Linked DNA regions of Homo sapiens. The protein of the gene in region 2 interacts with the protein of the main gene of each other region in a pairwise test. Each region holds a gene or a part of one and is shown on either strand. Other genes may lie near its edges.

Region 1 (3,748 bases), on a different chromosome or scaffold from region 2:
CCACCTGGGAGGCGGAGCTGTGGCGCAGGAGTTGGGGGGGGGATCCCCAACACATGGGAGAGACGAGGTGAGCTCAGGTGGCCAAACACGTGAATTCCAATAATTGTATTTAACTGATGGCAAGTGATACTAAATAATCTAAAGATTAACTTTTAAGTAAATCTAAATAAGCCAAGTTAAAAAATCACAAGGGGAGCAAAGCAACCCGTTCCCATCAGCGCCTTCCGTTTTCTCTCCATGGAAGCCTTCGCCAGCCAGGAGCAAAGGGCAGGATGCTCCAGCTTGAATTCCTTTCTCCCCCCTTCCAGCCCTGTGGTAGCAGCACAACCTCAATGAGGAAGTGGGAAAGAGCTGGGAGGCCCGGGCAGCAAGTGCCTCCCCACAGAGGGGACTCCACGGTGCAGGAGTGACCTGCTGGCGAGTTCTGGCCAGCCAGGGTCCCAGCACCCTCCCCCCGGCGCTCCAGCTCTGGGGCCCCACTTACATCTTCATGTACCGATGCACATCGGCAGGCAGGGAGGACCCGTCAAAGACAAAGTTGTCCGCCATCACGTTCAGCGCCAGCCGCGGTCGCCAGTGGGACACTGGCTCATCCAGGGCACTCGTCGGCTTCTTCTCCGCCTCGATCTGCTGTTAAGTGAGGAAAACAGAGGCCAATGCTGGGACAGAAAACCATGCCCAGGACAGCAGGGTCAGCCCCCTAACCTGCGAACAGAACGGCCACACAGACAGGCAAACTGTGCCCGGGACAGCAGGGTCAGCCCCCTAACCTGTGAAGAGATGGCCACACAGACGGGCAAACTGTGCCCGGGACAGCAGGGTCAGCACCCTAACCTGTGAAGAGAACGGCCACACAGACGGGCAAACTGTGCCCGGGACAGCAGGGTCAGTGCCCTAACCTGTGAACAGATGGCCACACAGACTGGCAAACTGTGCCCGGGACAGCAGGGTCAGCGCCCTAACCTGTGAACAGATGGCCACGCACATGGAAAAACCGCACCCGGACAGCAGGGTCAGCACCCTAACCTGTGAAGAGAACGGCCACACAGACGGGCAAACTGTGCCCGGGACAGCAGGGTCAGCGCCCTAACCTGTGAACAGATGGCCACACAGACGGGCAAACTGTGCCCGGGACAGCAGGGTCAGCGCCCTAACCTGTGAACAGATGGCCACGCACATGGAAAAACCGCGCCCGGACAGCAGGGTCGGCACCCTAACCTGTGAAGAGAACGGCCACACAGACGGGCAAACTGTGCTCGGGACAGCAGGGTCAGCGCCCTAACCTGTGAACAGATGGCCACACAGATGGGCAAACTGTGCCCGGGACAGCAGAGTCAGCGCCCTAACCTGTGAACAGATGGCCACGCACATGGAAAAACCGCGCCCGGACAGCAGGGTCAGCACCCTAACCTGTGAAGAGAACGGCCACACAGACGGGCAAACTGTGCTCGGGACAGCAGGGTCAGCGCCCTAACCTGTGAACAGATGGCCACACAGACGGGCAAACTGTGCCCGGGACAGCAGGGTCAGCGCCCTAACCTGTGAACAGATGGCCACGCACATGGAAAAACCGCGCCCGGACAGCAGGGTCGGCACCCTAACCTGTGAACAGATGGCCACGCACAGGCACAACCGGGGGAGAGCCCAGCAGAGAGGGCACAGCGGCCCCACAGCTGCCAATTCCGCCAGACTCTCGCCAAACAGCCCCCCATCCTTATCTCCACGGAAGCCAGGGGGTGCTGCTTTGCAACATGTGGTCACGGACTTCACCAATTCCTTTTTTGAGGTCCTCAAACTAAGTGGGCCCACTTCTCAGAAGTTGAGAGGGTGAGAGCCCCCTGACCTTGGCAGAAGACTGTGCAAGTCCAGGGCTCACACAGCCCTGTGGCTGTAAGGAGACTGAGAGGGAGTCAGCTTCTAAAACCAAGCATGTGGGGCTGCCTAAAGGAGACATACTGAGGATTACACACGGCTCTTACATGAAGTTAAACAGGACATGGACTGACAGGGAAATCTTAGCTCGGCTCAGATCTGATACATCCTAGGAAGCACTATCGCCTCACCCATTTCCTACCTAAAGATGCAGTTTAGCGATAATTTACATTACAAACGGTTTTCCACACCTCCTCACATTTGCTACCTGCAAGGGAGGCTTCCTGCGCTACATGCTACATGCCCATCACCCCACCCACTTTTCAGGACACTGGAGAGGAGGGATGGGGGCCCCAGATGAGGGGACACGGAGAGGGGCAGGTGAGGGATGTTCCTAAGGAGACAGATGCAAACTGGGGAGAGGCAGGAGCAGGTGTTGGTAGGGCTTTCAAAACCCCATCAACTCCGAGAGACCTCTCTTTCTCTCTGTCTGGAACAATTTCACAGCCTCTTCCTGGAAAGCTGCCATCTTTCTTGTTTTGTAAATTTTTCTGAGGCAGAGTCTCCCTCTGTCGCCCAGGCTGGAATGCAGTGGCATCATCTCACCTCACGGGTTCAAACGATTCTCCTCCCTCAGCCTCCTGAGTAGCTGGGATTACAGGCGCGTGCCACCACATCCAGCTAATTTTTGTATTTTTAGTAGAGACGGGGTTTCACCATGTTGGCCAGGCTAGTCTCGAACTCCTGACTGCAGGTGATCCACCTGCCTCAGCCTCCCAAAGTGCTGGGATTACAGGCATGAGCCACTGCGCCCGGCCTTGTTTTGTAAATTATCTCACCTTCCACTCAACACAAAGGTGGGTGTCAGAATTCCCTTGCTTTATCCTTGGCCTGTATTCATGATCACTTAAGTGACTTCCAGTTTTTATTTGCGCATACACCTTTCTACAGATGTACAAACTACAACTTGTACCTCTACCTTTTCCATGATCTCCAATTACATTCTTAGAATAAACATCTAGGAATAGCCCAGTCCTACACAGAATGCAGAATGAGCCCAGCTCTCATCCCCAGAGCTCCTGGTGAGAAGCTGCAGGCCAGCTCTGCAGGACCAGCGCTCCATCCCACCAGGTGCAGTAGGTGCCCCCAGAGACTGAGAGGGCCCATTCCCCGAGGGACTCTGCATCGAGAATGCCAGCGATCACTTCAACTGTCCCTAATTTTAGATAAAACTTGTCTGCAAACTCATGGATATGATTCAGCTGAAAGTCAGAAATGCACGCCAGTAACATTCCAATGGCTTTTGGCTTTACTCCCAACAAAGTCACTGGAGCCCTAGACATCGCCCACCTGTGTGGAGAAAGACATGTCCGTTCTGACGGAGAGGCACAGCCTGTTATCAGTAACCCATGAAGACCCTCACCTGTGTATCAGACTCCCCGGTGAGCAGGTTGATTTCTTCTGGCTTGGGGACCATGTAGGTGGTCAGAGGACTGACCAGGTGCACCTGCTTCCCGTCGTGCCACGGCAGGACCCCAGCGTGATGGAGGAAGATGTAGGCATACAGCGTCCCATTGTTTCTCGTTTTCTTTGGTACAGAAACATTAACTGTCCTGAAACAGAACAATCATTTCCACTACATACATATTATATTCTGGGTCTCTAGAACCTATTCAAATACCTTTATAAAGCTGCTTCAATAAACTAATTTTAGCTCAGAAGTACTAAAAATGAAACCCACCTGCCCAGGGCTTTACGAGTCGTGTGTGTGTGTGTGTGTGTGTGTGTGTGTGCACGCGCACGCGTGCGCGTCCTGAGAACTCGGCACAGGTGTGGGCGCCTACAGCCGAAAGCAAAACGGCCCGCACTTCCTGCC
Region 2 (3,748 bases):
TTGTATTTCATGACGATACAAAGGAGTAGCTATTGGGGCTCTATCTGCTGAGGGAGATTCATCAGACACCCCGATGCAAACCTGAGTGAGTGAAGGCTGGGCTTCTAGGCAAATGCAGCCCCTCCCTCTTCCAACCAGATGGCCGCCCCTCAGCGCCCCCTGTGGAGAAATTCAGGAAGCACCACTCTTGTATAATACATATACCCCTCTTGTTAAGGTCATTACCCCAAACTGTTAATTATTATTTACAAAAAACATATTATCTACTAGAATATGAACCCTGTCCCCACACCTAGGGTGGTGTGTGTATGTGTGTGTGTGTGCATTTGCACACATGTGCCATAAGAGCTCGATAAATATTTGAATAACTGAGTGAATGAATGGGTATTTAGAAGCCCATTAAGCTCAGACTAGGATGCAATTTGAACTTAACCCTGCAGGTACTCGGACAGCTGATAAGGGGAGTAGCATGCATAAGGATTGGAAGAGGAAGCTGGGGTGTGTGTAGGAGGTGGTGTGTAGCACTGTACTGGGGAGAAGAATAGGCCTCAGAACCCAGCAGGACAATGGTTAAATCCCAGCTCCACAGAGTGATCTCGGCAGGTTACCTGACATCTTGTTTCCTTAGGGGTTGCTGGGAAATTAAATGACAAAAATGCAAAGCACTCAGAGACTGCACTCCGATGCCCATGGAGAATAAGTGGCAACTCTTATTATTACTCAACCTTTCTGAGCCTCGATTTCCTACTCTGTAGTAGCATGTCATTGTCTGATGCTAAATGGAAATGAAGTAAAATTTGTAAAACGAAGTTTCACTAAATAATACTTCATGTGATGTATTCTAATATATTCTGTTTTATGCTAACTCATTAAAGAAAAAAGAATACTGTCAGTGACCCAGTAAATTGATTTCATAATCCATTAACGGACATGTCCTTAAGTTTTAAAAAACCCAGCCTACAGAATACATTTTTAAATAGACTTTATATTTTAGAGCACAATTCAACAGAAAGTACAGAGAATTCCCACATGCCCCCTGTCTCCACAGCTCTCCCCTGCGCATCAACATCTCACACAGGGTGGGACACTTGTCATGGTGGACCACCCCACATGGACACGTCATCATCGCCCAGCACCGAGTTTGCATTAACATTCGCTCCTGGTGGTGAACATTCTATGGATTTTGACCATTGCATAACGACACATATCCGCCATTATGGTACGTTTCACTGCCCTAAAAATCCTCTGCTCTGCCTATTCATTCTTCCCTCCAGAATATTTTTAACACGATCTCGAGGCCATAGATGATATCAGTAATTTGCAGTATTGATGATAGTGGTGAACCGGAGGAGAGAGACACTGTTAGGAAGCTGCTGTAGTGGTTCAGGTGAGTGAGGACAGAAGGACAGCTGTGGCTGCAAAGGCTGGAAGAGAGGAGGGTGTGGGACACTGGTCAGGAAGAGACAGGCCTTGGTCAAGGAGTGAGGAACGGGGAAGCAGGAGCCACTGGACCCTAGGGGTCTGGAAGCTAGTGGCCTTGGTGTGGGACTGCAGAGAGATAGGAGGTGCCAGACGGCAGGGACTTCAAGGCAGAATTGAAATCTGCTGAACAGCAGGCGTCGGTCAGCTGGGACAGCCGGAAAGCTCGGGATCAGGAGGCGGTCAAGCTGAGCTCTGCTCTCATTCCGCCGCGTGACCTTGGGCAAGTCCCTTCCCTTCTACAGGAGGCTGGACTAGATGTCCTCCTTGTACAGCGTTGCGGGGAAGGTGAGACAGTGCCACCAACACAGCAGGGCATTGCTGGGTCGGGGGGATGGGGCAGGAAACGCTTCAAGGATCAGGCAGGATTTTCCTCCCACCAGGAAAAGCCGGCGCGGGTCTAAGGCCGGAGGAGGGACCCAGACATAGGAGTCACCTTCTAAGGGGCTTCCTGGAGCACATTTTCCTGCCCAGCAACAGGCGGCAGCATTCTCTCCCCACTAATCCTCTCCAAACAGCAGTGAGAGAGAATGCCTGCCGCTTCAAGCCAGGTCGCAACCCCTCGGTGACCCGCTGCGCCCGAGGAGGGGCCGGCGGTGCGCGGTGGTGGCGGCGGGCGCGGCAGCTGTGCCCGTCTGCCCAAGGGTTAATCCGTCCCCTGCAGCTGCCGCGCGTGCCTTGCAGAATTTCACCAGAAGAGGGTACAGTTTGAAAAGCTCCTGACGTCAGGCTGGAATTCCTATTGTGTTTAGAAAAGGCTCGGGCAAAGCCAGCCCAAGTTCGCTCTCTGCACACCTCGAGCACCTCGCGGACGGCGTGGGTCCGCCAGCTCCGGGACCTGCCGCCGCTGCCTGCGCGCCCCGGGGCGGAGGACGGTGCCAGCCGCCCACGAGGAGACCCCGCTCCCGCAGGAGGCCGAGCTGAAGCGGCGGAGCGCGCCGCCAGCCAGCCGGGGTGAGTGCCCCGGGCGAGGCCGGCGGCCGCCAAAGCCCCCGCGGGCTCGCCCGGGCGCCCGGATGCCAGCCCCGAGCCCCGCCGCCGGGTGCATGCCTCCCCCGCGGCGCGCCCCCGCAGGCTGCTGCCCGCTGTGACCGCCCTTCCCCGCAGGCGGGCGCCGGCCAGGCTCTCCCCGAGATCAGCGCACGGGTGGCACCCGCCGGACCCCCAGCGGCAGCGGCGGCGGCGGCTGCAGGGGGCGCGGGGCGGAGGCTGCGAGGGCGCGCGCGGGGAGGATGGACGGGTCCGGGGAGCGCAGCCTCCCGGAGCCGGGCAGCCAGAGCTCCGCTGCCAGCGACGACATAGAGATAGTCGTCAACGTGGGGGGCGTGCGGCAGGTGCTGTACGGGGACCTCCTCAGTCAGTACCCTGAGACCCGGCTGGCGGAGCTCATCAACTGCTTGGCTGGGGGCTACGACACCATCTTCTCCCTGTGCGACGACTACGACCCCGGCAAGCGCGAGTTCTACTTTGACAGGGACCCGGACGCCTTCAAGTGTGTCATCGAGGTGTACTATTTCGGGGAGGTCCACATGAAGAAGGGCATCTGCCCCATCTGCTTCAAGAACGAGATGGACTTCTGGAAGGTGGACCTCAAGTTCCTGGACGACTGTTGCAAGAGCCACCTGAGCGAGAAGCGCGAGGAGCTGGAGGAGATCGCGCGCCGCGTGCAGCTCATCCTGGACGACCTGGGCGTGGACGCAGCCGAGGGCCGCTGGCGCCGCTGCCAGAAGTGCGTCTGGAAGTTCCTGGAGAAGCCCGAGTCGTCGTGCCCGGCGCGGGTGGTGGCCGTGCTCTCCTTCCTGCTCATCCTCGTCTCGTCCGTGGTCATGTGCATGGGCACCATCCCCGAGCTGCAGGTGCTGGACGCCGAGGGCAACCGCGTGGAGCACCCGACGCTGGAGAACGTGGAGACGGCGTGCATTGGCTGGTTCACCCTGGAGTACCTGCTGCGCCTCTTCTCGTCACCCAACAAGCTGCACTTCGCGCTGTCCTTCATGAACATTGTGGACGTGCTGGCCATCCTCCCCTTCTACGTGAGCCTCACGCTCACGCACCTGGGTGCCCGCATGATGGAGCTGACCAACGTGCAGCAGGCCGTGCAGGCGCTGCGGATCATGCGCATCGCGCGCATCTTCAAGCTGGCCCGCCACTCCTCGGGCCTGCAGACCCTCACCTATGCCCTCAAGCGCAGCTTCAAGGAACTGGGGCTGCTGCTCATGTACCTGGCAGTGGGTATCTTCGTCTTCTCTGCCCTGGGCTACACCATGGA
Region 3 (3,748 bases), on a different chromosome or scaffold from region 2:
TCATTTACAATCGTGTGTGAGGGAGCTCCTCAGAGAGAATACTTCAACCCACAGTGGATACTGATGCCTCCCAAAGGGCAAGAGCAAGTTTTGTTTTCATTTAATTTTGGTCATGTGCTCCTATTAACATAACTCTCAATGACCCTGTTTTATTAGGTACTAGATTGTTTGGGCAACATCACTACTAAAGACAAAAGAAGAAAATACCAAATGCTGGCAAGGATGTGCTGCAGTGATAGAAACGCTCACACACGGCTGGTGGGAGTGTATATTAATATAAAACCTTTGGAAAACTGTTTGACAGCATCTACCACAGTTAAACATGTGCATCCTAGGTATACACCCAAGAGAAATGTGTGCCCACATGCTCCAAAAGACATACTAAAAATGTTTGTAGCAGCATTAATAGCACAAAACTGGAAACAATCCATCAGTGGCAGATCGGACACAATGTGTGGTACAGTCATACTATAAAGCACGATGCAGCAGTGAAAATGCATCAACAGGCCAGGCGTGGTGGCTCGTGCCTGTAATCTCAACACTTTGGAAGGCCAAGGCGGGCGGATCACAAGGTCAGGAGTTCAAGACCAGCCTGACCAACATGGTGAAACCCTGTATCTACTAAAAATACAAAAATTAGCCAGGCATGGTGGTGCACACCTGTAATCCCAGCTACTCAGGAGGCTGAGGCAGGAGAATTGCTTGAACCCGGGAGGCGGAGGTTGCAGTGAGCCGAGATCGCGCCACTGCACTCCAGCGACAAAGTGAGATTCTGTCTCAAAAAAAAAAAAAAAAAAGAAAGAGGTAAAGAAAATGAAGCAGTACATGCAACAACATAGAGGAATTGCCACCCGACAAAAGAATATATGCTATATGATCTCATGCATATAAAGCTCCAAAACAGATAAAAATAAACAGTAGTATTTATTAACTATAGTGGGTTTTTTTAGGAATGCAAAACAAACTGGTAAAATTATGAGGAAAAGCAAGAAAGTGATCACCATAAAATCAGGAGATGTCACCCTTTAGGAGGAGAGTGAGGGACTTAGGATCAGGAAGGCTTTGGGGGCTTCTAGAGGTCTGGCAAGACTCTATTTCTTGACACAGGTGGCGATGGCATACAGTATCACTTTATAGAAATATGTTAAGCTGTACAAAATTGTTTTGTGTGCTTTTCTATTTGTCGTACTGAACAATTAAAAAGGTTAAAAGGGGAGAAGAATACAATGCAAAACTTATCAAAAGTTTTTTAAAGGTTTGCAGCTGGAAAAAACAATGGGCTAAGTCAGTTTTGTTCCACGGAGCAGACTGCAAATAAGTGGTAGCTATAAGAAGACAGATTTTGGTAAGACCAAATGACAGCAACAAAGGGAGGAGGAAGAGGCAGAGAGAAGAGAAGAAGAGAAAAACAAGGAAAGGCGGCAAAAGAAACACAATTATACTTGCTTACAAATAGAATATTCCTCACGAGAAAGTGAGGGTCCCATCACTGAAGCTAGTCAAACACAGGCTGGAGAACCATCAGGAGGGAGGTTCTGGAGAGGATTCAGTGGAACAGTGGAAAATGAATTGTATAGCATGTCCCCCCAGAACTAAGATTCTGTGATTCTATTTCTCTTTCTCAACAGTTACAGGTGTGGCCACTTAGAGAAACAGAAAAAATAAAAAACAAGAAAAGTATGGTCCAAATATCCTAAGTGTATAAAGCAGATACTCTAGTAGATTTTAAAATGTTTGTTTACAAGCCATTAACTAATCAAAAATAAAGGGAAGGGAAGAATTGAAGAGCTTCAAGGTAATGCTCAAGGAACCACTCCCAAATGAGGTCCAACCATATATGCAGAGCTGGCATCGGAAACAATGAAGCCAAGGATTCAGTTGACCCACAGTGTTCCTCAAACACATCTATTCTTTTAAGATAGATTACTAAAATAAATGGGTTGCATAAAAGTCATGGAATTTGGAAGCTTTATTTCCTTAACATTAAATGACAAGGCTTCAGCTTCTCAATCCCCCATCTAACATCAGCCAACAGATTTAACTTTTTGACACTTTCAGAGAAAGATAGCTGAGCCTTGGCTGAAGATTGTCTTAGAATATTTTACAAGAAAAAACAAGCTCTGCTGAGCTGGTAATAATCCAGATTATCATCCATTCCCCCTTGTAGAGGCACAATGGATTTTAACCAGTTTTCTGTTTTATAAATATTACCATGGCTCAAAACACCCATGAGGAGACACAACATTACTCGTGGTTCTCATCCTGTTTGCTAACTAATTATATCAACAACCTGAACCAACTTAACACTATACAAAAACACAGCTGATTTAGCAATCTGTAAATTATACATGTACATAAATCTGTACCAAAATGTGCTGTGTTTCACTCCTGCTAATGTGCATGGATTTTTACTGGCACCTACAATTGTTTGATATAGGTTCCCGAACACTAAAACATATGTTCTGCCCAGAATGGGACCATTTAGAGTAATATTTTTGTAGTTTCCTGGCACCAAGGTCTGCCAGCCTTTCTAAGACAGATCTCCTATTTGCTTCAGCAAACATTCTGACAACAAGTGCCTGCAGATTTAAGCAACTATCAAAAAATATTCTGTAACAACAGTTTCCAACCATGAATATAAAGAGAAACAGGCTGGTTTTGCCTATGTGGCAACAAAGCCAGTAGGATTTAAAATGATCACTGACATGACCATAAGCAAAATCAAATAAAATATGGAGTATTAATTATTTCTGCTGCCTACTTACGGCAATTTAAAGAACAGATAATTATCAAATCTTTCCTTAAATGGGATTCAAAATGTACCAAAGAAAGTTAAAAGTCGGTTTTAGTACCAGCAAGACCAGTAAACACCTTAGAAATGTTTTTTAAATACAGTGACAGGCCTAAACAGTCGCAGCCGGTCAACACTGTAAAATAGGGGCAAGAACCTTGGACCAAGATTCACTAGAATGTAATTTACTAATCACAAGGAGGGTTTCTTGTTTACCACTGTATCCTCAGTGTTCCATAAATACATTCAATAAATCTTTGTTGAATGAATAAACCAAAAACAACTGCTGGCTAGTCCCTGATCTGTCTCTAATTGCCTTTTCCTAATTCTGCCTCTTACGAATTGTAGGTAAATCACTTAACCTGAGGATTCTTAGGTGAGTTTTAGTTTAAGGATTTTAGTTCCTTAAACTCTAAAATGGAGAGACTGCACCTCCTCTACTAGCTTATGAGGATCAAAGGTGATACTCTGTGAAAAGTGACTTGGTACTTTATAATGGGGCACACAGATGTTAAGTGCCCATTATCCCCGCCTTTGCCTTCAGCTAAACCACTGACAAAGGTGAACAGACTGCATTTCCTTGAAATATAATTAGCCTTTCCTTTGCCCTATTATTCTGTTGAGATGTGGTAGTGTGGCTGTTAGCCAAGATGGATGTTGTTCTTGTTGTTATAACATTTTATTTAATCTCCACTGGGAAATTATGCTTCTTGAGAGAATATAATGGTAACATGAGGAAAGGGTTTTTGCATGGTGTACCATAAAGAATCTGACATTGGACTCAAATGGTTTGGGGCCTCATTAGTTCTGCCCTTAAATATTTGAGGAAAGCCTCTTGCATCAATTTCCTTATTTATACAATGATGGGGAAGGAGAGGCAGACTAGATAATATTTAAGGTCTGTCTCTTCCCACAGCTCTATGATATTCCGGGCATCAGATATTCAAATAACCCAAA

Evidence for each region.
Region 1: the proteins of KCNF1 (region 2) and CLPTM1L interact in binary tests that used the Homo sapiens proteins (3 or more experiments, as listed by UniProt).
Region 3: the proteins of KCNF1 (region 2) and KCNH1 interact in a two-hybrid assay, tested with the Homo sapiens proteins (one study listed by BioGRID).

Annotation. Positions count from the first base shown.
Region 1 is NC_000005.10:1,338,376-1,342,123, forward strand, and holds part of CLPTM1L (lipid scramblase CLPTM1L), read right to left. Parts: intron 3,486-3,748; coding exon 3,296-3,485; intron 805-3,295; exon of another isoform or gene 771-804; intron 631-770; coding exon 485-630; intron 1-484. UniProt on the Homo sapiens protein: Scramblase that mediates the translocation of glucosaminylphosphatidylinositol (alpha-D-GlcN-(1-6)-(1,2-diacyl-sn-glycero-3-phospho)-1D-myo-inositol, GlcN-PI) across the endoplasmic reticulum (ER) membrane, from the cytosolic leaflet to the luminal leaflet of the ER membrane, where it participates in the biosynthesis of glycosylphosphatidylinositol (GPI).
Region 2 is NC_000002.12:10,909,716-10,913,463, forward strand, and holds the start of KCNF1 (voltage-gated potassium channel regulatory subunit KCNF1), read left to right. Parts: upstream 1-2,218; 5' UTR 2,219-2,711; coding exon 2,712-3,748. UniProt on the Homo sapiens protein: Regulatory alpha-subunit of the voltage-gated potassium (Kv) channel which, when coassembled with KCNB1 or KCNB2, can modulate their expression and their gating kinetics by acting on deactivation upon repolarization and inactivation during maintained depolarization.
Region 3 is NC_000001.11:211,127,504-211,131,251, forward strand, and holds part of KCNH1 (voltage-gated delayed rectifier potassium channel KCNH1), read right to left. Parts: intron 1-3,748. UniProt on the Homo sapiens protein: Pore-forming (alpha) subunit of a voltage-gated delayed rectifier potassium channel that mediates outward-rectifying potassium currents which, on depolarization, reaches a steady-state level and do not inactivate.